7 linked regions of the Homo sapiens genome follow. The protein of the gene in region 5 purifies or fractionates together with the protein of the main gene of each other region. This does not show direct contact. Each region holds a gene or a part of one and is shown on either strand. Other genes may lie near its edges. The genes, in order: NPC1, RAB6B, TCTN2, ABCA2, DIPK1A, CNNM1 and FIRRM.

The links.
Region 1: the proteins of DIPK1A (region 5) and NPC1 purify together in Homo sapiens (co-immunoprecipitation; one large-scale study listed by IntAct). This does not show direct contact.
Region 2: the proteins of DIPK1A (region 5) and RAB6B purify together in Homo sapiens (affinity purification with mass spectrometry; one large-scale study listed by BioGRID and IntAct). This does not show direct contact.
Region 3: the proteins of DIPK1A (region 5) and TCTN2 purify together in Homo sapiens (affinity purification with mass spectrometry; one large-scale study listed by BioGRID and IntAct). This does not show direct contact.
Region 4: the proteins of DIPK1A (region 5) and ABCA2 purify together in Homo sapiens (affinity purification with mass spectrometry; one large-scale study listed by BioGRID and IntAct). This does not show direct contact.
Region 6: the proteins of DIPK1A (region 5) and CNNM1 purify together in Homo sapiens (affinity purification with mass spectrometry; one large-scale study listed by BioGRID and IntAct). This does not show direct contact.
Region 7: the proteins of DIPK1A (region 5) and FIRRM purify together in Homo sapiens (co-immunoprecipitation; one large-scale study listed by IntAct). This does not show direct contact.

The regions. Positions count from the first base shown.
Region 1 is NC_000018.10:23,534,507-23,538,006, reverse strand, and holds part of NPC1 (NPC intracellular cholesterol transporter 1 precursor), read left to right. Parts: intron 1-1,130; coding exon 1,131-1,334; intron 1,335-2,306; coding exon 2,307-2,538; intron 2,539-3,447; coding exon 3,448-3,500. UniProt on the Homo sapiens protein: Intracellular cholesterol transporter which acts in concert with NPC2 and plays an important role in the egress of cholesterol from the endosomal/lysosomal compartment.
Region 2 is NC_000003.12:133,833,383-133,836,882, forward strand, and holds part of RAB6B (ras-related protein Rab-6B), read right to left. Parts: intron 1,260-3,500; coding exon 1,193-1,259; intron 1-1,192. UniProt on the Homo sapiens protein: The small GTPases Rab are key regulators of intracellular membrane trafficking, from the formation of transport vesicles to their fusion with membranes. Rabs cycle between active GTP-bound and inactive GDP-bound states.
Region 3 is NC_000012.12:123,691,613-123,695,112, reverse strand, and holds part of TCTN2 (tectonic-2 isoform 1 precursor), read right to left. Parts: intron 2,456-3,500; coding exon 2,390-2,455; intron 272-2,389; coding exon 137-271; intron 1-136.
Region 4 is NC_000009.12:137,021,738-137,025,237, forward strand, and holds part of ABCA2 (ATP-binding cassette sub-family A member 2), read right to left. Parts: intron 2,500-3,500; coding exon 2,406-2,499; intron 2,104-2,405; coding exon 2,101-2,103; intron 1,316-2,100; coding exon 1,204-1,315; intron 1,129-1,203; coding exon 965-1,128; intron 742-964; coding exon 614-741; intron 265-613; coding exon 154-264; intron 1-153. UniProt on the Homo sapiens protein: Probable lipid transporter that modulates cholesterol sequestration in the late endosome/lysosome by regulating the intracellular sphingolipid metabolism, in turn participates in cholesterol homeostasis.
Region 5 is NC_000001.11:92,846,463-92,849,962, reverse strand, and holds part of DIPK1A (divergent protein kinase domain 1A), read left to right. Parts: intron 1-2,603; coding exon 2,604-2,780; intron 2,781-3,500.
Region 6 is NC_000010.11:99,335,856-99,339,355, reverse strand, and holds part of CNNM1 (metal transporter CNNM1), read right to left. Parts: intron 1-3,500. UniProt on the Homo sapiens protein: Probable metal transporter.
Region 7 is NC_000001.11:169,826,040-169,829,539, forward strand, and holds part of FIRRM (FIGNL1-interacting regulator of recombination and mitosis), read left to right. Parts: intron 1-53; exon of another isoform or gene 54-176; intron 177-1,011; coding exon 1,012-1,160; intron 1,161-1,671; coding exon 1,672-1,801; intron 1,802-3,223; coding exon 3,224-3,410; intron 3,411-3,500. UniProt on the Homo sapiens protein: Regulates PLK1 kinase activity at kinetochores and promotes faithful chromosome segregation in prometaphase by bridging kinase and phosphatase activities.

The sequences.
Region 1 (3,500 bases), on a different chromosome or scaffold from region 5:
TGATGATGACCGGAAGTCTCTGGCCTTGATTTGGAAGCTTTGGGAGGTGGAAGATGAGTATCCCCATGTATGTTAGGTAAACCCTGAACTTAGGTTTTTCATAAGAACATACATCTGACCAGAGTCATATCAGTGAATCATTTATATCATGCATGTGCTTTGAGACCTATTCGAGGTATCATGGGATGACTCCTCCTAAAAGTTAAGTAGAAATGAATCTTGCAGCTTGATTTACTCACTGACTGGATGCTTTGGCCTACGTAAAATAAGTTGAAGTAGATTCAGTTTTTCTGAAGGCAGTAGCCACCGTTCCTGGGGAGCCTCCAGGGTGCCAGCGTCATGCCAGGCACTCCCTGACATTATTCCATTTCTCATCACGCAGCCTATGAGTAGGTGGTGGTATACCCATTTACAGAAGAGGAGACTGGGGCTCAGAGGTGGTCATTTTGCTCGGGGTTACATGACCAGTAAGTGGCAGGGCTGAGGTTGTTCCCAGGGCCCTTGCCCTTTCCTGCTTCCTATTACACAACAGGACTGAGTAAACCCTGTACCTTTGATTATACATGAAACCAGGTGGAGAAACAGCAGCTATGTACCAAAGAACCCAGAGCAATCGAGAAAAGCCCATCTGGCCAGGCGAAGTGGCTCACACCTGTAATCCCAGTACTTTTGGAGGCCGAGGTGGGCGGATCACCTGAGATCACCTCAGGAGTTCAAGACTAGCCAGGCCAACATGGCAAAACCCTGTCTCTACTAAAAAAATACAAAAGTTAGTTGAGCGTGGTGGCAGGTGCCTGTAATCCCAGCTATTCGGGAGGCTGAGGCAGGGAGAATTGCTTGAACCCGGGAGGTGGAGGTTGCAGTGAGCCGAGATCACGCCACTGCACTCCAGCCTGGGCTACAGAGCAAGACTCTGTCTCAAAATAAAAAAAAAAAGAAGCCAGTCTGGGAGAGAACAAGCTAAACCTTTGGTGTTCCCTTATCTGGGGGCCTTCTTCATCCCTGAAATGTACAGCTGGGTCTGACCTCTGAGTCCAGGGTCAGGTGATTTTGCTTAGCCTCAAGTGCTCAGATTCTGCTGATATTTTGCAAGACCTGGACTCTCTTGACACCCAGGATTCTTTCCTCAGGGGACATGCTGCCTATAGTTCTGCAGTTAACATCCTCCTTGGCCATGGCACCAGGGTCGGAGCCACGTACTTCATGACCTACCACACCGTGCTGCAGACCTCTGCTGACTTTATTGACGCTCTGAAGAAAGCCCGACTTATAGCCAGTAATGTCACCGAAACCATGGGCATTAACGGCAGTGCCTACCGAGTATTTCCTTACAGGTAAAGCCTGCCCTTTTTCAATGGGGTTTACCCAGCAAAGGGCCTACACTGGGTGGGAGTGGGGAGGGTTCCCTTGGCAAGATGCTGATTTTCAGGTTGGGTTCTGGCCCCTGCTCCATTCTGAGCACAGGGCAGTATATCAAAGGAAATGGGTGCTGGGCAAAGGAGTTCAGAATCTAAAGTCTCTGTGAAGGCCTGAGGGCTAGAGACGCAAAACTTGATCTCTGCGCCACTGCACAGCTGCAAGAGACACACACTGGAAAATGGCTTAAGGCAGGGGGCGCTTGGAGAGCAGGCGGCTCAGAGCAGGGCCCGGCCCACATTCTTGGCCAACAATGAACCAGAATCCCTAACTGCTGGTTATTTGGGATGCTGCCTGTATGTAGACTTTTTATATTGTTAGGGGTTTTTTTTCCCAGGAAGAAAAGTATTATGTATGAACTACTGAATTTAGAAACTGTAGAAAGGTAGGAGAAACAAGTGATTTATTTTTCCTGCCTCCCCATGATCTCGCTTAAAGCAGGAAGGCCTGGATTTGTTTGGAAGAAGTTAAGAGCCGGTTAGCTCTGGCAGAAAATAAATGAAAGCATGTTTTCCTCAGGCCTTGCACGGACCCCGCTGAGCCTGAGGTAGTGTCTCAGGATAGATCAGGATTCTTTGTTTTTTTGTGTTTTTTCAGAATGCTGTGGAATGCTCTCTGTAAATGTCTATAAAATAGCATAGATTGGGCTTATAAACAGAAACTTTATCAAAAATATACATTTTGCATCACTGCTGGGCCCTTCTCTGGGTGGTCAGTGGCCATGAGAGGTCAAGTGAGTTGCTTTCGGTGAGTCTTGTAGACAGCCAGCAAGGTTTTCTGCAAGGGATGTTTCCCAAAGGAGTCTGACCACTTGGCAGTGGTGACAGGATGAACACGCAGTGTTCGGGAGTGAGAGCGAGCTTTAATGAGGCCTCCCCTCTCCCCTCCAGTGTGTTTTATGTCTTCTACGAACAGTACCTGACCATCATTGACGACACTATCTTCAACCTCGGTGTGTCCCTGGGCGCGATATTTCTGGTGACCATGGTCCTCCTGGGCTGTGAGCTCTGGTCTGCAGTCATCATGTGTGCCACCATCGCCATGGTCTTGGTCAACATGTTTGGAGTTATGTGGCTCTGGGGCATCAGTCTGAACGCTGTATCCTTGGTCAACCTGGTGATGGTGAGTCCTCATACAGTCTCAGTTTGTCCCTAGCTCCTGTTTCACTTGGGGGAATTGGCTGTCTTAGATTCCATGTAAACCCTAAAGATGGAGTAAGATACCAAGTCTGGCGCTTGCTCTTGGCACACATGGAGAGGCAGGATGAGTGCTGGAGGAGTGCTGGATGGTGGTGGGACAGGGCATAGAGGGAGCGAGCATTGAGTTGGACATCTGGGAGCATAGGCACATTACAGGCAATTTCTGTTCAATTTTTTCTCTTGTCCCATTCCTTGCGGCTATACTAGTATACCTGATGGTGCCTCTGACCATGGAAATGTGATTTCCTGGCCTAGTTCTGGGCTAGTCTGCCTGTAATTTGTTATTCTTTAGAGATTGCACAAGCCTGTAGCCTGATGACAGCAGGATGTTCACTTTTTACTTAGAAAATTGCACCCCGCCCCAGGAGCTCTCCGACCAGTGCCTTTTGCCTCCTATGTGGTTATCAGGTACTTTTAATCATTAAAGATGAGAGCACTTGAGAAGGTATTCATGGAAAATAGAACAGTGTATCCGTACTCTCAGATATGAGCCCTGCTTCAGATAGGGGAGCACTGAGGTCCAAGAAAAGAAGTTGTGACAATGCGCCAGCTCGGTGCGGGTGGGGTGACCTTAACGGGTTCCAGCAATTTCTCCTGGTCAACACAAACGTGCCACAGAAAACCAGGCTTTTGGCTGTGTGTAGAGAGGGCCCCAAAAAGTTCCTGGTACAGTAAGATTGGTGTGATGGAGGCCTTGTAAGTCCAATGGGATGCTTGGCCTCCTCTAGCACCCAGGGTGCCCTGGGTAATTAGCACCCATCCTCAGAACGGGGTGGCTGCCTAGGGTCTTCAACAGGAAGAGAGCCATCCTAAAGGAAGTGCTTTATTTCAGAGCTGTGGCATCTCCGTGGAGTTCTGCAGCCACATAACCAGAGCGTTCACGGT
Region 2 (3,500 bases), on a different chromosome or scaffold from region 5:
CAGACCGTGGGACTGCTGGGGCACCTGCTCCTTGGTGAGCCTTCCTGACCCCCCCGGGGGGTGGGTCTCGAGTCTGCTCTGAGAGCTCCTTGAGCAAGGCTGGAGAGGCCTAGCTTCCCTCCAGGCCTGTGTCAGGCTCCCCCTTGCTGCAGCCCTGGGACTCCTGGTGTCCTGCCCGCCCTGCCCCAGCAGCTCCATGAGGCCTCCAACATTAAGCTGTGTGCTTCTTTTGCTTTTGATTCTCATCAGCCCAAAGGTGCCCTTCCATCTTCCCAGGGCCCTTCTTTGATCTGTCAGGGATGTCTACCCTCAGAGGCCTATAGGATCAGTGGGGGATGTTGGAGAGCTGCTGTGTAGGGACAGGTCCACTGTAAAGGATGCCAGCCAGGGATCTGCATGCTTGTTTTCTGGTGGCTTACTCAGGCAGGGACATCTGACTAGATGCAGGGGAGGCCCAGGTGTGGGCAATGGCTTCCCCTGCTGAAACAGTTTTCATCTGATTCTCTCAAATGCCCTTAGAGGGACAGTGTCCCACATGGAATAGGGCTGGATATGGAGGAAGCAAGCCTGAGTGTGAATCCTAACTGTAACTTACATGCTGTGTGACACTGGGCAAACCAGACTACCTCTCTGAACCTCAGTTTCAGCATCTAGGTGTCTCTTCAGGTTGGGGCTGGTTTGTGGGTGATGCGCAATGGTCCCACAGATCAGTGGGGAGCCTCAGGAGCTGTTCAGGGCTGGGTAGAGAAGGTGGGCGGGACAAGGAGGGGGCATCTGTCTGAAGGGGGGAGCTGTCTTGAGTAGACTGAACCACGTTGAGATCATATCCCCAGTGACAGAGACTTCCCTGCAGTGGAGACTCTGCCTGTGTTCATGAAACCCATAAACATGCTCGCTGTAAAGAAGGGCAAAGTCGCTGTTTCTCACTCCCCACCCCACAGCATCACTCTGTGCACACCCCTTTGGTATCTTCCTGCTATTCTGGAAGAAGAAGTAGATGGTTAGAGCCAGACGGGGGCTCCAAACCATAGGGTTCAGCTGCATCCCGCCTAGAGGAGGCCCCGTGCCATTCGCGGCAGACCAGGGAAGGCTGGGCGGGGACTGGGCGAGTGTCTGTCCACTGCACTAACATATTCAGTGAATAAATGGCTTCTATACATCTTTTCACTCACTTGTCAAAGGAAAAGGATACTCCCTTCTTTGCTTTTCTCCTGGACATTCTCCATTCCGGGTAGAGCCGACGCCACACGTCGAAAAAGCTGGAAAGATGAAGAAATGCAGTGTGAACCCCAACCCTGGCCCTCCCCTCTGCTCCTCACTGCACCTGCACCCTCACCCCTCTTCCCCTCCCAACCTGCAGCTTTACTCTCCCATCTGCCCAGCGGACGGTGCCCTCAAAGGCAGGGGCTGTGCCTATGTTCTCTCTCCCCCACCTCTCACAGCATTGGGTCTGGGCAGGCCTCAGTAGCTTGTGGAAGGAAGGAACAAAGCTGTGGCCTCTCACCCAAGCAGACTGGCCATAGGGTCACTGGGATGAGCTTAGGTCATGGCAGTGACTGCAAGGGACTTCCTCTGGTGCAGAAAATGGTTTGGGCCTCTGGGTGACAGGCCTTAAGGTGGGCTTCTGCAAACAGCCCTCATGGGGACCAGGCATGGGGAAGTGACTTGCCCTTGAGATGAATGACTCTGCTTGGGGAGCCCTGCAGGTCCGGCGCCAAGGCAGCGAACAGCAGGGCCAGGGCTGCATGGGCACAGTGGTGAGGCTTCTCTGAGAGCGCGAGGGATGCAGGAGTGTGAACACAATTTTGTGGGCTTGTTTGGATGTGTAGGAGTGTGAGTTGTTTATTGTGTGTAGGAGTGTGTGTACAGTGTATGTGTTTTATCTGTAGGACTGCGTGGAAAATGTGTGTGTTGTGAGTGGTGCGTGTGGGTAGGTGCATGTATGTTTGTGTAAGCATATGGGGGAATGTTTGAGTGTGGTGTGTGTGAACGTGTGGCATCTTTATGTGTGTGTTTGTGTAAGTGTGGGGGGAATGTGTGCATAGTGTGTGTCCTTGGTAAGGTGTGTGTCTGCGTACATGTGGGTTTTCTGTGTGTGTGTGTGTGTGTGTGTGTGTGTGTTTGGGCAGGTGTGGGTGGCAGGGGACAGGTGGCAAGTGGCAGATGGGGTGCTGGCAGAGATGGAATCTTGGAGGTGACAGGTACGAGGCAGAAGTATGAGGCACAGAAGACTCTGAACTGCTAGGTTCTGAATGCCGGTCCCCCTGCAAATTCCTATGTTGAAACAGAATCTCCAATGTGACAGTATAAAGAGGTGGGGCTTTAGGAGGTGCTTAGTCAGGAGGGTAGAGTCCTCATGAACGGGATGAGTGCCCTTATGAATGAGGCCCGAGGGAGCCTGTCTGCCCCTTCCACCTTGTGAGGATGCAGCAGGAAGGTGCCATCTAGGAGGAAATGGGCCCTCACCAGACACTGAATATGCCTGCACCTTGACCATGGAGTTCCCAGCCTCCAGAGCTGTAAGCAATACATTTCTGCTGTTTATATGCTACCCTGCCTATAGTGATTTGTTACGGTAGCCTGAAAGGACTAACCCAGGAGCACTCCCGCTGTCCTCACAAATGTGAATTGCAGGAACTGGGTGGGCTCTGGGCTCATACCCTCCACTGCATGAGCTCTCTGAAGACAGGGTGAGTCTTATTCATGGCCTCACCCCAGAGCCCAGCCCCAGCTGAGCACCCGGGCTGGGTGACAGGGCTAAAGGCCATGAGGGCCCAAGGGGGGAAGCTGCTGGTGGGCCCAGCATGGTGTGAGACCCTTGTGGGCGGGCTGCAGAGGAGGCTCTGCAGTGGGGTAGCCATTAGTAGGCAAGGGTAAAAGGGCCCAGGCCATCCTTCCTGAGCTTTCCTTCATGGCATTGGCCCTGGGCGGCTCTGATCTGCCTGTCTGGCTCTCAAAACAGTCACAGCCTCTACTAGTGGCCAAAATGCCACTAGGGATTTTGAAGGGTGCTCTAGGATCAGGTATGGGTTTCTAGGGTCAGGTATGGGTTTCTGTGAGTGGATATGCTCACATTTAGATCCAGGAGTCTGCACTGCATGGACACTCCTCTGAGCCACACAGGGTTCGAAACTGACCACATTTAACTCCTGCTAAACCACTGCATGGGTTCCAGAGCACTCTGGGGGTAGGGGCATCAGTGCCTCCCTGACCCTGACGGCTGAGGCAGATGCTACCTGCCCTATGGACCTCCTGGTGCTGCCCTGCCCTCCCTCTGCTTCCCTGCTTCCCATGACTTTAGGGCTCCCAAAGAGTAGCAGCCCAGTCTCTCCTGCATGCCCCCAGGGAGCAGGAAGGACCATGACAGCTTCAGCCCCACACCAAGGGAGGCTGGGAACAGATGGGAGTGAGTGAAGCCCTGATGAGGACACTCTAGTTAGGGTGGGGCACTGAGTCCTGGAGCTTTGGGGCCCCCAGTGTCACATAGTGTCCCTTCCACC
Region 3 (3,500 bases), on a different chromosome or scaffold from region 5:
CTCGTTAATTAAATCATAAATGCACATAAGAAACAAGTCCAACTTAGTTTTATGGGTTATAATTATGAGAATCTTGAAAAGAGGAAAAAAAAATACTTTTCAGTGAAAGCATGCTTGCTACCCTCATCAAAGTTACCTTTCTGGTGGGCATTAATCTCTGCCCTAAAAATTTTAACATTTATTTCACTGATGGTATTATTATTCCATTTGAAAATATAATGTTCTTCCACATTCACAATTCTAGGGGTTGATCCGTTATTTAAAGGAGTTTCTGCAAATACAAGAATATGTTCATAAATTAAAGACCCTCTTTGAGCCTGACTCTGTTACTGGGAGGTTCTCTCTGCTTGCGTGGCCTTCCCCAAGTGCCCTGCCCCTGCCCTCCCTATCTCCAGCTCCCTAACATGGCACGGTCACTGCTTCCTTGAGGAAGCCTGCCCTGGTCCCACCAAGTCAGCATTAGCTGCCTCCTCTATGCCATCACAGTACCCAGAATGAGATCTGTTCCTTTCATTTCTATATCTCCAGCACCTGGCTCATAGCTTGCCATGGAGCATGCACTTGGTAAAATGTTTGTGAGATGAAAGACCAGAGGGTCAGTTCCGCCAGGGCAGGGGCCCGCTATCTAGTTCCCTACTACGGCGTAGGAACTCCACTAACATTTGATGAGCCAATGAATAAATTTGAGAAGTACAACACATCAGAAAGAGACACCCAGCACTTGGGGAGGCCGAGGTGGGCAGATCACCTGAGGTCAAGAGTTCGAGACCAGCCTGGCCAGCATGGCGAAACCCTGTCTCTACTAAAAATACAAAAATTAGGCCGGGTGCGGTGGCTCACGCCTGTAATCCCAGCACTTTGGGAGGCTGAGGCAGGCAGATCACGAGGTCAGGAGTTCAAGACCAGCCTGGCCAACACAGTGAAACCCCCTCTCTACTAACAATACAAAAAATCAGCCAGGCATGGGGGCAGGCACCTGTAATCCCAGCTACTCGGGAGGCTGAGGCAGAAGAATCGTTTGAACCCAGGAGGCAGAGGTTGCAGTGAGTGGAGACTGTGTCACTACACTCCAGTCTGGGTGACAGTGAGACTGTCTCAAAAAAAAAAAAATACAAAAAAATACAAAAATTAGCCGGGATTGGTGGCAGGTGCCTGTAATCCCAGCTACTCAGGAGGCTAAGGCATGAGAATTGCTTGAACCTGGGAGGTGGAGGGTACAGTGAGCTGAGATCACCCTATTGCACTCCAGCCTGGGCGACAGAGCAAGACTCTGTCTCCAATTAAAAAAAAAAAAGAAAAGAAAGAAACAAACAGTATCCTTCATTAAAAACTAAAGTTCTGGTAAAATTAGCCAAACTGAGCCAGTCGCCGTGGCTCACGCCTGTAACCCCTGCACTTTGGGAGGCCAAGGCAGGTGGATCACCTGAGGTCAGGAGTTCGAAACCAGCCTGGCCAACATGGTGAAACCCCGTCTCTACTAAAATACAAAAATTAGCCAGGCATATGGTGGTGAACACCTGTAATCCCAGCTACTTGGGAGACTGAGGCAGGAGAACTGCTTGAACCCAGGAAGTGGAGGTTATAGTGAGCCAAGATTACACCACTGCACTCCAGCCTGGGTGACAGAGCAAGAATCCATCTCAAAAAAAAAAAAAAAATCTGCCAAACTCTACGTAACTTATTTGGCTGCATCACAATTGGAAAGTTTAATTATCAAAAAAAAAAAAAAAAAAAAAGGAAAGAAAGCAAAAAGTGAAAATGCTGTGCCCTAAAAAGTTCTTTTAACTGGTCGGGCGCGGTGGCTCACACCTATAATCCCAGCACTTTGGGAGGCCAAGGCAAGTGGATCACCTGAGGTCGGGAGTTCGAGACCAGCCTGACCAACAGGGAGAAACCCCGTCTCTACTAAAAATACAAAATTAGCTGGGTGTGGTGGCGGGTGACTATAATCCCAGCTACTCAGGGGGCTGAGGCAGGAGAATCACTTGAACTCAGGAGGCGGAGGTTGCAGTGAGCCGAGATCATGCCATTGCACTCCAGCCTGGGTGACAAGAACAAAACTCCGCCTCAAAAAAAAAAAAAAAAAAAAAAAAAGAATTATTTAACTATCAAACATTTAAGGAAAGGTTCACGGAAGCTGGAACTAGAAGGGTCGGTGGAACTCAGAGAATCCAGGACTGTGGAGGAGCAGGCTCAAGGTCACAGAGAGCACTCTAAAGCCCAGCAGGACAGAACGAGGAACAAATGAAATGTTCCTGGCAGATCTTTCTAACTATTGTGAACCTTTTTAAATGACTAACAAAAATATACACTCTGAGGGTATATATTACTTGTAAGAAATGACATATCTGTTTCTGAAGAAATGACGTCAAAGTGTAACATTAAATACCTGTATTGGTGATGAATTTGTCTAGGTCAGTTGCTTCCTCATAGATCACTTTTGGTGTAACTATGCCTAAAGAGATAACATAAATTAACTTCCACAGGCGTACACATGGCCTACCATGATCACACTTACTCAAAGTATAGCTTACAAAGCAAATATGGTGACCGCAACTGCCCAGGGTGCTGACTACAAAACCCTCCCCACTCCCCAAAAACCATCAGATAGGAGTCCCCATCCTCTTAGCATCTAATTATAACGGAGGAAGAAAATCCACAACAAACACACAAACAAACAAAAACCAGGGTCACTGTGACATAAAAACAAATATGCAGTTCACTGCTGGTGGCAATACAAAATGGTGCAGACACTGTAGAAAACAATTGGCCAGGCGCAGGGGCTCACGCCTATAATCCCAGCACTTTGGGAGGCCGAGGCAGGCAGATTGCCTGAGGTCAGTTTGAGACCAGTCTGGCCAACATGGTGAAACCTCCTCTCTACTAAAAATACAAAAAAATTAGCCGGGCGTGGTGGCTCATGCCCGTAATCCCAGCACTCTGGGAGGCCGAGGTGGGTGGATCACCTGAGGTCAGGAGTTCGAGATCTGCCTGGCCAACATGGTGAAATCCCATCTCTACTAAACTTCGTCTCTACTAAAAATACAAAAATTAGCAGGGCGTGGTGGTGGGTGCCTGTAATCCCAGCTACTCGGGAGGCTGAGGCAGGAGAATCGCTTGAACCCAGGAGGTGGAGGTTGCCGTGAGCCGAGATCGCGCCATCGCACTCCAGCCTGGCGGACAAGAGCAAGACTTGGTCTCAAAAAAAAAAAAATTAGCCAGGTGTGGTGGCACATGCCTGTAATCTCAGCTACTTGGGAGGCTGAGGCAGGGGAATCGCTTGAACCAGGGAGGTGGAGGTTGCAGCGAGCCGAGATCACGTCACTGCACTCCAGCCTGGGTGACAGAGCAAGACTCCCTCTCAAAAAAAAAACCAAAAAAACAAAAAAAAAACAATTTGGTGGGTCCTCAAGAAGTCATATTAGCATGACCTGTCAGTTCCACTCCTAGGTGTCTACCCAAAAGAAATAAAAACACACATCTACGCAAAAACTTGGACA
Region 4 (3,500 bases), on a different chromosome or scaffold from region 5:
TACCCCTCATGCCTGCCATAGACCCCTGGGACCCTCCCCCTCTCCCAGGAGGAGCTCCAAGTCACCAAAGGGGCCCTTTCCTCACCCACGGAGCAGAAGCACCCCCAGAGGCAGGCAGCACTCCAGGCCCATCCCACACATGGATGCCCTCACCTCCATCCGGAACAGGGGATTGCCCCCTAGGCGGCTCCAGGGCTCCTGACCCTTGTGGAGGCCAGACTGTGAATCCAGGGCAGATGAGGGACCAAAGAGCAGGTGGTAGACCTAGGAGGTGTGGGGGAATGGCTCAGATGGGGTGTGGGGGGCGTGGCTCAGATGGTGGGGGCGTGGCTCCGATGGACGTGTGGGGGCGTGGCTTAGATGGTGGGGGCGTGGCTCAGAGAGTGGGGGCGTGGCTCAGATGGTGGGGGCGTGGCTCCGATGTAGGTGTGGGGGCGTGGCTCAGATGGTGGGGGCATGGCTCAGAGAGTGGGGGCGTGGCTCAGATGGTGGGGGCAAGGTTCAGACGGTCTGGGCGTGACTCAGGCTGAGCATCCTGAGGATGGCTCAGCAACCAGGGGGCGTGGCTGGGGCAGAAGGGAGTGGCCAGGGCTGGGAGCTGTCCCTGCCTTACCTCGGGCGGGTCCACACGGGCGGCCAAGAGTGCTTGGGCCGTGCTATTGGGCAGCGACAAGTTTTGCGTCAGGAAACGCCAGAGCTCCTGCGGGTTTCTGGCCACCGAGTCCAGAGAGAAGGAAGACACTGGACAGGCAGGAAGGCGAGGCTGAGAGGCCGCTGCACCTTGGCAAGGTGCCCCCACATGCGCTCGGAGCCGAGCCCAACACCACAGCTCTGCCACTGCAGCCTGTGCGTGGCTGGGAACTCAGTGCAGGTGGAGGGGCCCAGAGTGGATGTGGGCTTCAGCCCAGTGACAGCAGAGCTTTGCCCGCAGCCCTGCCCCCCAACTTCCCTGCACAGGGCACACCTGTGGATCTGTCCAGGTGGCTCCCCGAGGTGCCCGGGCCCGCACTGAGGGCCTCCAGATGCTGGCGTAGGGCCTCGAGCTCTGAGCCCAGGCTGGGCCGCGCTGGGTCAAACAGGTTGCCTTCCTCCACCACGCGGTCCAGGCGCTCAAGCAGCTGCGTGACCCTGCACCATGGCGGATGTCACTCACTGGATGGGCTGGGGAGGGGTGGGTGCTCCGAGGGGCGGGTGGGCACTCACGTGGAGTTGGCGTACTGCAGGAAGCCGAACTCGTCTCGCTGGCCGTCCGGGCACAGCGATTGCATGACAGGCAGGATGCCGGCAGACGTCAGGGGCGCCGCTGTGTAGAAGGCTGGCAGACCCACGGGAGAGGGCAGGGTCGGGGGTGAAAGGGGAGAGAGAGAGAGAGGAATCCAGAAGGGGAGGGAGACAGAGGCCGAGAGGAGAAATTTAGAGAAAGTCAGGAAGGAGAAGCAGCGTTAGGGAGAAGGCGGCACAGAGCCCTGGCCCCAGCTGGGCTACAGGCCAAGCGTTCTGGGGCGAATGACTCCAGCAGGTCAGAGGTCAAAGAGCCACTCACCACCCCTTCTGCCATAACTCCCAGAGCATTCCTTTCCTTTCAGCCAGTGCAGGCCCACATGCCCTGGCACTCTCCCCCCGAAAACGTTTCAGGTGTGGCACTGCCTACAGAGCCCAGGGGAGGACAAAGGACCCCCTCTGGGCAGTGACCTCTGACCTCTGGCCAGCTGGTTAGCAGAGTGAGTGCAAGAGCCTGAAGGAGTATGAAGGGAGAGTAGCCAGGCCGCTCCAGCCCCAGCCCAGGCCAGCCCAGCCTCAGCCCAGACTCAGCCCAGAAGCCGAGGCACCCCAGCCCTAGAAGGCAAGGCCAGGCAGAGAGATGCCGCCTCAGCTTGACCCAGGCACCAGCTGTGCCTTTAGGTGGCCGGGCCTTTCACTCCCTACCACCTCCCACTTCACTGCCTGCCACCCCCCATCTGGAGCCAGCTGTTCCTGAGGCCGGCAGGGGGCCCGGGAGGGCTGTTAATGCAAGCGGGGAGGGCGCTCAAGCCAGGACGGCCCATGGGCCCCCCGCAGCTGCTGCCCAGGCCAGCCAGGAGGAGGTGGCCGCTCACTTACAGACTGCATGCCAGCCGAGGACAAGAGACCATGCGGGGAGGGAGGGGGATCAAAACAGAACAGAGGAGACCAGTGAGTGCCCACATCACCAGGAAGAGGCGTTGGCATCATCATTCGCGGCCACAGGCCAGCCCCGACCTCCACAGCCCAGCCAGGAGGCACGGCCCAGGACCACACAGGGGAGCAGGCACCGCACCTCAGGGACTCCGGGAGCAGGACACCCGTGTGCAGATGTGCACACACAGCGCAGGCGTGCGAGGTGCCGCGCTCCCCCGGCTGTGCCTGGGGCCTCCTGCCGCACTCACCTTCCTTCACGGAGATGGTGGGCTTCTTCTGTCGCAGCCCCAGCAGGATAAAGAACAGCACCAGGGGGATGAAGATCTCGAAGGCCAGGACCCACTGGAAAGGGTGGGCCCAGTGAGGGATAGGACAGACCTGTGCTCGCCTAGGCCCTCCCCAGCCTCCCATAGGGCTGGCCCAGCCCAGACAGGACCACGTGCTCCCTGGGGCCAGGGAAGGTGGGCACAGGCCCTTCGGAACCACTGAAGGTCTGAGCCCCTTCCAGGGCACTGAGGGTAAGGATTGTCTGGCTCAGCAAATCAGGTTTCCCGTCCCCAGCCCACACTGGGCCTACGTGCCCTCTGAGGAGCCTCAGGGCCTACAGGGACAAATCGGCCAGCTTGTGGTCTACTCTGACCCATGTATATCCCAGCTCATCTTCTCCCTCCCCACCTCCAGGGCTACCTGGGCAAAATCTTGGGGACCATCTGAGCCACTAGCCCCGCCTACACTTCCCACACTGCCCCGGGTTCACCTTCCTCCCACTTCCTCCCCACCAATACCGGGGCCTGGGGAGATGAGGAGGCCTGGTTGAGAGGCTTGGCCTGCGCCCAGGGCCCTGAGCCTCGGAGAAGACCTGGTAAGGGGTCTAACAGCCCCAGTCCCTGAAGCAAAGGCACCTTTTTTTTTTTTTTTTTTTGAGACGGAGTCTCACTCTGTCACCCAGGCTGGAGCACAGTGGTGCGATCTCAGCTCACTGCAAGCTCCGTCCCCCAAGTTCACACCATTCTCTTGCCTCAGCCTCTCGAGTAGCTGGGACTACAGGCGCCCGCCACCATGCCCAGCTAATTTTTTGTATTTTTAGTAGAGACGGGGTTTCACCGTGTTAGCCAGGATGGTGTCGATCTCCTGACCTCGTGATCCGCCCACCTGGGCGTGAGCCACCACACCTGGCCCAAAGGCACCTCTTTCTGCCCTGTCCCCTCTCCTGACCCGGGGCAGCCAGTCTTGGGCCTTGGAGCTCAGTTTCCCCAGGTCGGCTCCTGCTAACCCAGGCTGGGCACCAAGGTGAGCCCTAGTGGGACCTGCGTGGAGTGAGAAAGAGGTGCTTTGCTCACTTC
Region 5 (3,500 bases):
ATACAAACAGCCGGGCCCGTGGCACGGGCCTGTAATCCCAGCACTTCAGGAGGCCAAGGTGGGTGGATTGCTTTAGTCCAGGAGTTTGAGGCCTACCTGAGCAACATAGCAAAACCCTGTCTCTACAAAAAATACAAAAATTAGCTGGGTGGCCAGGCACAGTGGCATACACCTGTAATCCCAGCACTTTGGGAGGCTGAGGCGGTAGGTCACTTGAGGCCAGGCATTCAAGACCAACCTGAGCAACATTGCGATACCCCCTCTCTACTAAAAACACAAAAAATTAGCCGGGTGTGGTGGCACATGCCTGTAATCCCAGCAACTCCAGAGGCTGAGGCACAAGAATCGCTTGAACCTGGGAGGCGGAGGTTCCAGTGAGCCAAGATCTCACATCACTGCACTCCAGCCTGGACAATAGAGCGAGACTGTCTCAAAAAATATATATGTATTAGCTGGGTGTGGTGGCACACACCTATGGTCCCAGCTACTCGGGAGGCTGAGGTGGGACAATCACTTGAGCCCAGGAGGTCAGGGCTGCAGTGAGCCGTGTTCATGTCACTGCACTCCAGCCTGGGTGACAGAGTGACACCCTGTCTCAAAAAAAAAAAAAAAAACAAAAAAAAACCAGACAAGATTGCTTCCCTTACAGACCTTACATGATTCCAGAGGGACAGGAGGTACAAACAGTTGATAAATAAATAAATAAACAAACAAAATAATTGTAGAATATGGTGTGTTCTGTAGGAGACACAGAGGGCAAATTGATAGAGAATGCAGTGTAAGGGATGGTGAGAAGTGCTTTAGAGGATGTGATCAGAGAAGACCTTTCTGAAATAATATTTGAACTTATACCTTAATAAAAAATTCATAGGCATGGGAAAAGGACAGGATGAACTAAATCACAAAAGAACTGCAAACAGCTGATGAACATAATGAAAAAAAATTCTACCTTACTTTTCATCAGAGAAATAAGAATAAAACAGTAGAATATCTAATTGGGGTAGAAGAAAATACAACGAAACATCTGGAGCAGTGGAAAATTGCATTTTAATGTTCATCTTATGGTTCCTAAATTTTCCTATATAAATATGCATTATTATTATAGAAATTTAAACTAATTTTTCAGTTGACAGTATTAATCATGTTAAAGACAATTTCTAAAACAAAGTCCAACATTTGAGTGTCTCCTGCATGCCAGGCACTGTTTGAGGCACTGAGGGAGACAGATAAAGCCTCTGGCCTCATGTTCTAATGTGAGATGAGACAGATAGTAATGAACTGATAAATAAATAAATATGATAATTTTAGACAGTGCAAAAGGCTATGAGGATAATGAAACAGGGTTAGAGGTGACCTGGGGGTGGAAGAGGATCTCTTCTAGACAGGGGGTCAGGGAAGGCTTTCTAAATGCAATGTCTAATCTGAGACTTGAATGATGTAAAGGAGCCAGCCATGTGAAGATCTGGGAGAGTACATTCCAGGCAGAGCCAGCAGCAAGTGAAGCAGGTCAGGAAGCAGAAACAAGCTTCAACCTGTCACAGAAAGACCAGTGTAGCTGGGACTTTGAGAAACGGAGTACGTGGTACAAGATCAGGTTGGAGACATAGGCGAGGCTAGCTCAAATGGAGCCCAACCGGTCATGGAAAGGACTTTGGACTTTAATTGAAAGGGGAATTTATTAGAGGGTTTGGAGCAAGGCAGTGAAATAATGTTTTCTTTGGATTAATATTAAGAATGAATATGATCTTATTTATTTTTTTATGTAGAAGAGGGGCAACCTATCCTAGTGGTAAAGACCTCAGCTCTTTTCAGCATGTTACTTCACCTGTATCTGCTTCAGTTTCCCCATCAGTGAAATAAGTATAATGATAGTACCTACCACCTAAGATTGGTACAAGGATTAAAATAATAACATAAATCAGTAAAAGCCAGGTGTGGTGCCTCATACCTACAATCCCAGCAACTTGAGAGGCTGAGGCAGGTGGGTCACTTAAGGCTAGCAGTTCAGGACCAGCCTGAGCAATACAGCAAGACCCCATCTCTACAAAAAATGTTTTTAATTAGCCAGGTTTAGTGGTACATGCCTATAGTCCTGGCTACTTGGGAGACTGAGGCAGGAAGATTCCTTGAGCTCAGGACTTTGAGGCTGCAATGAGCTATGATTATGCCACTGAACCCCAGCCTGGGTGACAAAGCAAGACCCTGTCTCTAAAATAAATTAGTAGACCATAGGACATAGTTAACACTATATAATATTAGTTTGATAAATAACTAGATACTTAAATAGTAGTTAATTCTGGGGAAGTGGGATTATGGAAGTAGAATGTCTGGGAACTTTGCTTTTGCCTTACATCCTTCTCATTGGACTTTTTGAAAAATATATTTAGGCATGCATTACTCTTATAATTTAAAAAATTAGTTTAAGGAAAAAATCTTGAGTGTGATTTCAAGTTTGCAGTTCAGAAATAAAGTCACACCTTAACCTCAATGTTTGATGCTTGTTTTGTTTTGTTCAGAGGAGGAGGACCCTAAAAATATAGTAGTATATTTTTTAGAGTTTTCTACTCAGTATAATACATAACTTGCCACTCTTTTTTACATAGATGTATTTAGGGATTTGGGATAATCTACCAGGTGTTGTGAAATGTCAAATGGAACAAGCGCTTCATCTTGATTTTGGAACTGAATTGGAACCAAGAAAAGAAATAGTGCTATTTGATAAGCCAACTAGAGGAACTACTGTACAAAAATTTAAAGAAATGGTCTATAGTCTCTTTAAGGTAAGCATACCCATTCATATGTTGCTAGTGTGAAGTGGGACTCTTTAGAGGAATTGGCAGGACCTCATCCTAAGCCATTAAAGTGTTGATATTCTTTGACCTCTATCAGATTCTCCATCCTGAGGAAATAATTATAAGAGGCCGGGCGTGGTGGCTCACGCCTGTTATCCCAGCACTTTGGGAGGCCAAGGCAGGAGGATCACTTGAGCCCAGGAGTTCAAGTCCAGCCTGGGCAACATAGTAAGACCTCAGCTATATATATATATATATACACGTATATATATATATACGTGTGTGTGTATATATATATATATATATACACACATATATATATACACACATATATATATATATATATATATATATATATATATATATATATATATATATGCCAGGAGTGGTGGCATGTGCCTGTAGTCCTAACTACTTGAGATGCTGAGGTGCGAGGATTGCTTGAGCCTGGGAGGTCGAGGTTGCAGTGAGCCAAGATCTCACCACTGCACTCCAGCCTGGACGACAAAGTGAGACCCTGTTTCAAAAAAAAAAAGAAAAAGAAAAGAAATCTGTGTTGGAGAATGTTTACTTTAACATTATTTATGATAGCTAAAAATGTCCAGATATGAGGAGGGAGTTCATTAATTAATTGGAGTGCTGTACAGTTTGACATGAAAATTAATTCAAAAAAGGTGAAATAAAATGAGTATACTCTTAGAATTGTGG
Region 6 (3,500 bases), on a different chromosome or scaffold from region 5:
GGAAGAGGATATTTTTAGCTCCATAATGTCTGCCTAGCTCACCACTGTATTCCCAGAGTCTAGTGTAATGCCTGGCCCAAAGCAGGAATTCAAAAAATGTTTACTGAATGAATCAATGAATAAGCAAAGACTGAGTATGGATTGTGCAGTAGGCTGTGTTACAGCCATGCTAGTGTACAGGTGGAGCAGCCTAGCATACGTGGGTTGTGCTTTTTTGTTTGCAAAGATGGTGTTACTAGCCCAGCAAAGCTGAATTGTTTAATTGAGTTAAATGTCAGTCAGTGCTGTATTACTCAGAAGCTTTGACTTCAGAACAAAGCTTTATTCCTTTCCCCTGTTGTCTATACAGAACTCAGTGTCTCCTAAAAGCAATCCAATAATAGAGTAGTAAATTTAAGAAGTATGATAAATCTCTACGGCTCCATTTTTAAAATTAGTCTTCCCAAATTATAGCACTCAACCCTGAGGAAACTATAGCAAAAATACCACCCTATAAGAAAATCACTCTTAAGATTAGAATGGGACATTTGATTTGTGCTTGATGGCAGGACAATGGGCTTTTCCTTTTGTTTTCTTTTTAAGAATTTCATTAAGATTGTTATTATGTGCAATATATTTTTAATATGACAAAATATTGAGTTACTATTTCAGGATAGTGGGATGATTATCCTCATATGATTTTCATACTTCTTTTTTCTACTATTCTATATTTAAATTTTTTTCTGTATAAATTATAGAAACATAAACTTCAGTAAAAAATTTATAAAAGCAAAATATGACTGGGTGCAATGGCTCACACCTGTAATCCTAGCACTTTGGGAGGCCGAGGTTGGCGGATTGCCTGAGCTCAGGAGTTCGAGACCACCCCGGGCAACACGGTGAAACCTCGTCTCTACTAAAATACAAAAATTTAGCCGGGCATGGTGGCACATGCCTGTAGTCCCAGCTACTTGGGAGGCTGAGGCAGGAGAATCGCTTGAACCTGGGAGGCGAGATCACACCACTGCACTCCAGCCTGGGCGACAAAGTGAGACTCCATCTCAAAAAAAAAAAAAAAAAATGCCACCTAGTCATAGTTATTGTATCCTCCATGTTCCCATTGCATTTTTGCATTTCTAGTATAGCACTTTCATTTTAATGCTTTATGTACCAAGGTCTGTCTTACCCATATCCTGTACTTATATACTGAGACATGACTTGTAAATTCAAGGTCACTGGAAGTCATGGGAAAGGTGAGTGTCCAGCTTGCCTTCTAGCTTTGCAAAGGGAAGTGCTATTCATCCACTATGCTTTAGGCTCTTTGGGAACAGAGATTTTATCTCATACCCCTAACTCTTAGCACAGTGCTTTACATGTGAAAAGAAATTGTTGTAATAAATATTAATAGATGTACCTAAAGAAGCTGAGAAACAATAGATGCAACACTTTTCTTCTAACACTAACAAACTTATAAGTTTGATTTGTTCTGCTGCATAGTCCAAAATGATTTAATTCATTTTCTAGTGCTCTGCAGATCTCTTCCATTATATTAAAGTTTAACTCCTTAAGTCATCCATTCAGTCCTTAAACAAACATTCATTGAAAATTTACTATGTGTCATATGCATCGTTAGCTGCTGGAGCTACAAAGACAGATAAGACAGTTTTGCCCTGGAGATGCTCATTATATGGGTGGGAGGCACTTATAAACAAACACTGGTAGTACAGCTTGTTAGTTCAATGATTGAGATATGCACATAAAACAATGAAGCTGGCCAAAAAATCTATTTTTGTATTTTGGGGTTTACAGGAGAAGTCTCCCAGAGGAGGAGGCCCCTGAGCTGAGTGTCAAAGAGCTGGCAATGAATTAGTCAGGCAAAGCATATTCCTGACAGAAGTGCAATGTGAATAAAGGGACAAAGGCAAGAATAGCACAGTGCACCACAGAGTTCAGCATTGCTGGAGGGTAAAGCTGTGGCAGGGAGTGGTGAGCGATGAGGCTGGAGGGGAGGGCAAGAAGCAGGTCATGAGTGCATTGCTGGCTGCCTTACCAGCTTAGCCTCTCTCCCGTAGGCAGCGGGGAGCTGCTGAAGGGTTTTAAGCAGTGACATTACTGGAGATTATTTTAGTGGCACTAGAGAGAACGAATTTGAGGGAGACAAAAATGTGAAAAAGTGTAACTTCTTAGGAGGCATTTGCATAAATGAGTAATAGACTTGTGTTTATATTTAATAATCATAGCTAACATCTACTTAGTACTTACATGACAGGTAGTAAGTAAGCATAATGCGATAGTCTTAATATTTCACACAATCTTATGAGTAAATATTAGTATTATTTTCATTTTACAGCTAATGAAACAGACATAAACAGTTAAGTAATTTGCCCAGGGCCAGTATCAACCCAGGCATTCTAGTAAGTCTTATGTTCTTTTTTTGAGACAGGGTCTCATTCTGTTGCCACTGGAGTTCAGTGGCATGATCTTGGCTTACTGCAACCTCCCTGCCTCAGCCTCCTGAGTAACTGGAATTACAGGTGTGCACCATTACTGCCCGGCTAATTTTTGTATTTTTAGTAGAGACGGGGTTTCACTGTGTTGGCCAGGCTGGTCTCTAACTCCTGACCTCAAATGATCCACCTGTCTCGGCCTCCCAAAGTGCTCGGATTACAGGAGTGAGCTACCACGCCTGGCCAAATCTTATGTTCTTAATCACTATCCTGTTCGTTTAATTTCTGTTTCCTGTATTAGAGTGAAGCTCTATAGAGACAAGGACTATGTTGATGATGTTCTCCACTGTGCCAACACAACTATTTGTTGAATAAAATCAGTGAATAACCTAAGTGGAACAAATAGTGGATTAAATTATGTACAGATTTAAGAAATCGTCATGCACTGCTTAACTATGGAGACACTCTCTGAGAAATTCATTGCTAGGCAATTTCATGATTGTGTGAACATCATAGAATGTAGTCACACAAAACCTAGAGGATATAGTGTACTACACACATAGGCTATATGTTATAATCTATTGCTCCTAGGCTACAAACCTGTAGAGCATGTTACTGTGCCAAATACTGTAGGTAATTGTAACACAATGGTAAGTATTTGCGTATCTAAACATAGTAAAGGTAATGTGTTGCCTTAGGACGATGTTAGGTGTTATGACTGCTAGGACATCACTAGGTGACAGGAATTTTCCAGCTCCAATGTAATCTTATGGGATCACCATCATACATGCAGTCCATCATTGACCAAAATGACATGACTGCAGTTGGATGCAATATTGGCATCCAATTATTTGGCCAGCTTTGGTGATTGTTATGGACTGAATGTTTGTCTTCCCACAAAATTCATATGTTGAAGCCCTAACGACACCCAGAGAGGCCTCTAAGGAAGTATAGTAGTTAAGATTAAATGATGGCATAAGGGTGGGCCCTAATCCAACAGGATTGATGTCTTTCTAAGAAGAGAGGACCAGAGCCTCTTGCTGTCTGTGGACAGGCACTGAGGAAAGGCCATGG
Region 7 (3,500 bases), about 77 Mb from region 5:
AGTAAATTCAGCATTCTGCCTATTTTAAAACAACTTTTTTTTTCTTTTTTGAGATGGAGTTTCGCTCTTGCTGTCTAGGCTGGAGTGCAATGGCGAAATCTCGGCTCACTGCAACCTCCACCTCCCAGGTTCAAGCAATTCTCCTGACTCCGCCTCCCAAGTAGCTGGGATTACAGGCATGTGCCACCATGCTTGGCTAATTTTGTATTTTTAGTAGAGACGAGGTTTCTCCATGTTTGTCAGGCTGGTCTTGAACTCCCAACCTCGCTTGCCTCGGCCTCCCAAAGTGCTGGGATTACAGGCGTGAGCCACCACACCCGGCATTTTTTTTTTTTTTTTCTGAGATAGAGTTTCACTCTGCCGCCCAGGCTGGAGTGCAGTGGCGCAGTCTTGGCTCACAGCAACCTCTGCCTTCTGGTTTCAAGTGATTCTCCTGCCTCAGCCTCCCGAGTAGCTGGGATTACAGGCATGCACCACCACAACCAGCTAATTTTTGTATTTTTAGTAGAGACGGGGTTTCACCATGTTGGCAAGGCTGGTCTTGAACTCCTGACCTCAGGTGATCCACCCGCCTCAACCTCCCAAAGTGCTGGGATTACAGGCATGAGCCACCACGCTCCGCCCAAAAACAACTTTTAATAGAAATAAGCTAGAATTTATCAGACATAGTCTTTTCAATATATATTTTTACTTTTGATTTAAGATTTAGATTTTTATAGTATTTTTAAGGATATTGTGAAAATGATATCAGTGCCTCAAAGCAACAAAGATTTCTCTAAGATTATCAACTTCTCATTTTATAGAATTATGGCTATGTTTAGTTTAGAGATCTTGATCCAATTCTGGTATCAATTCAGTACTTTGAATTTTGTTTTATAAAATGCACACTTATTTTTAAAAACTTAGTTTTTAATATATTTTTACTACCAGAACATCAGTTTATAGTACTTACTCTACCTAAAATTAGAAGATAGCTATTAATGAATGAGTTTTTTTTCTCTCCCTTCCCAGCAAGTTTCCTCCAAGCCTTTATGCTACCAGGATTTCTAAAGCACACCAAGAGGAAATAGCAGGTGCTTTCCTAGTGACACTGGATCCACTTATCAGTCAGCTGCTCACATTTCAGCCTTTCATGCAGGTGGTTTTGGACAGTAAATTAGGTAAGCTTCAAAATAGATTTAATGATAAATCATCTATTATGACATGTTAGAGACACTGATTTCCCCTAGCCATTCTTTTTTACAATTAAGAAATTTTTATTAAGTTTCTTTTACTTTCTTTTCTTGAAACATATTTCTTATTTAAAAATTATACCTGGCTGGGCACAGTGAATCACACCTGTAATCCCAGCACTTTGGGAGGCCGAGGTGGGCAGATCACCTGAGGTCAGGAGTTCAAGACCAGCCTGACCAATATGGTGAAACGCCATCTCTACTAAAAATACAAAAATTAGCTGGGTGTGGTGGCATGTACCTATAGTCCCAGCTACTCGGGAGGCTGAGACAGGAGAATCGCTTGAACCCAGACGGTGGAGGTTGCAGTGAGCTGAGATTACACCACTGCACTCCAGGCTGGGTGACAGAGTGAGACTCTGACTCAAACAAAAAAAAATTATTCCTTTACGTATTAATCAGATTTCTGCTGAATTAATGTGTTTTTATTACATGTAAGACCTGCCATGTGAACTGCAGTTTCCACAATGTCTTCTTCTGGTTGTTGTCATGGATAAGCTGCCATCTCAGCCTAAGGAAGTGCAAACCCTGTGGTGCACAGACAGCCAGGTCTCAGAAACGACAACCAGGTAGCAAACATGTTTTTATCCAGTCATATTACCAATGGTTAAGAAGGCCCTGTTGTTTGGAATGGTCTTGAAATTAAGTTTGTGTGTTTTTTTTTTAAATCAGATATTTATGTTAATAGTTATTGTGTAGACACACATATATATTGCTACTTTATAAAAGCAGATAAATATAAAATATATAAACCTATATTAGATGCTAAAAATATTTTAATATTTAATTTTGTTCAGTATTGCTTAATGGTCAGCATTATAAACATTGATTGTAATAGAGTAGCTATAAGTAGAAACATTTAAAAACGAGCTCTGATAAATAGAACACTAGACACTGTAAGGTATATCCTGGCAAATTTAACCTTTAATCATCTTCCTTGCCAACACCGTAGTCCAGGCTCTAGTTTCTTTCTTCCTGGATTACTCTGTGCTCTAATTTTTCACCTCTTCCTTTATCCCATTCTGCGTACCACGATGAGGTTAGTCTCCCTAAACCTGGCTCTGAGCTTCCTATTCTGCTCAAAAACTGAAACATAATGTTAGAACTTCTCAGCTTTGGATTTAAAGCCTGTCCCATACTATTGTCATCTTCTGCTTTTTCTCCTCATTCTTGTATTCATTTTCAACACATATTCCTTGCTTCTGTCACCCCCTTATTTGTGTGCTTTTACTCGTGCTTTTGTCTTCTTTACGTACTTACAATTTGAACAGTTTTGTTTTGTTTTTTTTTTGTTTGGAGCAGGGTCTTGCTCTGTCACCCAGGCTGGAGTGCAGTGGCATGACCATGGGTCACTGCAGCCTCAACTTCCTGGGCTCAAGTGATTCTCCTACCTTAGCCTCCTAAATAACTGGGACTAATGGTGTGTGCCAGCTGTCCTGGCTAATTTTTAAATTTTTTCTAGGGATAAGGTCTCACTATGTTGCCCAGGTCTTCCAACTCCTGGGCTCAAGTGATCTTCCCGCCTCGGCCTCCCAAAATGCTGGGATTACAGGCGTGAGCCACTACACCCTGCCCATAACTTGACTATTTTTAATTTGTTGTTTAAATCCTCTAAGTTTCTTCAACCATTTTAATCTTAAAATGACTCCTCGTCTGCTACTTATTTTCTGTTTTTCCATATAATATCTAATTTAGCTATTTAAGTTTCAAGTTCCTTGAGGAACTTTGACTTTGTGTAACTCAGTACCAAGATAAACAGTTGGTAAATGATGCAAAAAATGTCCAGGAAAATTCTCCTTTAAGGAATTTCTTTGACAGTGAATATATTTTCCTTTTATGTGTACATATTCACACGTGTTGGAAACTATTGCTGATTATACCTCTTGAAACATTTTCTGCTTAAACAACCTTCCATGTTACATATTATTATTATAATTGCTAATTAGTAAATGTTATTAATGTTGGGTTCAATGTTCTCAATTTCCCTGCAGGATATCTCTACTCAAAGCCGTTTTCTACAGTTTTGAGCAGTGTTCTGGTGAACTCTCTCTACCTGTTCATTTACAGGGATTAAAGAGTAAGGGGAAAGCTGAGGTGGCTGTCACCTTGTATCAGCATGTTTGTGTTCATCTGTGTACATTTATTACTTCCTTTCATCCCTCACTGTTTGCTGAACTGGTAAGCATATTACTTACTGTGCTAAGCTAAGGTTACACTTTTGCTTTCTCTTCATTGAAATTGTGATTCATATACAGAAGAAAATGTGGG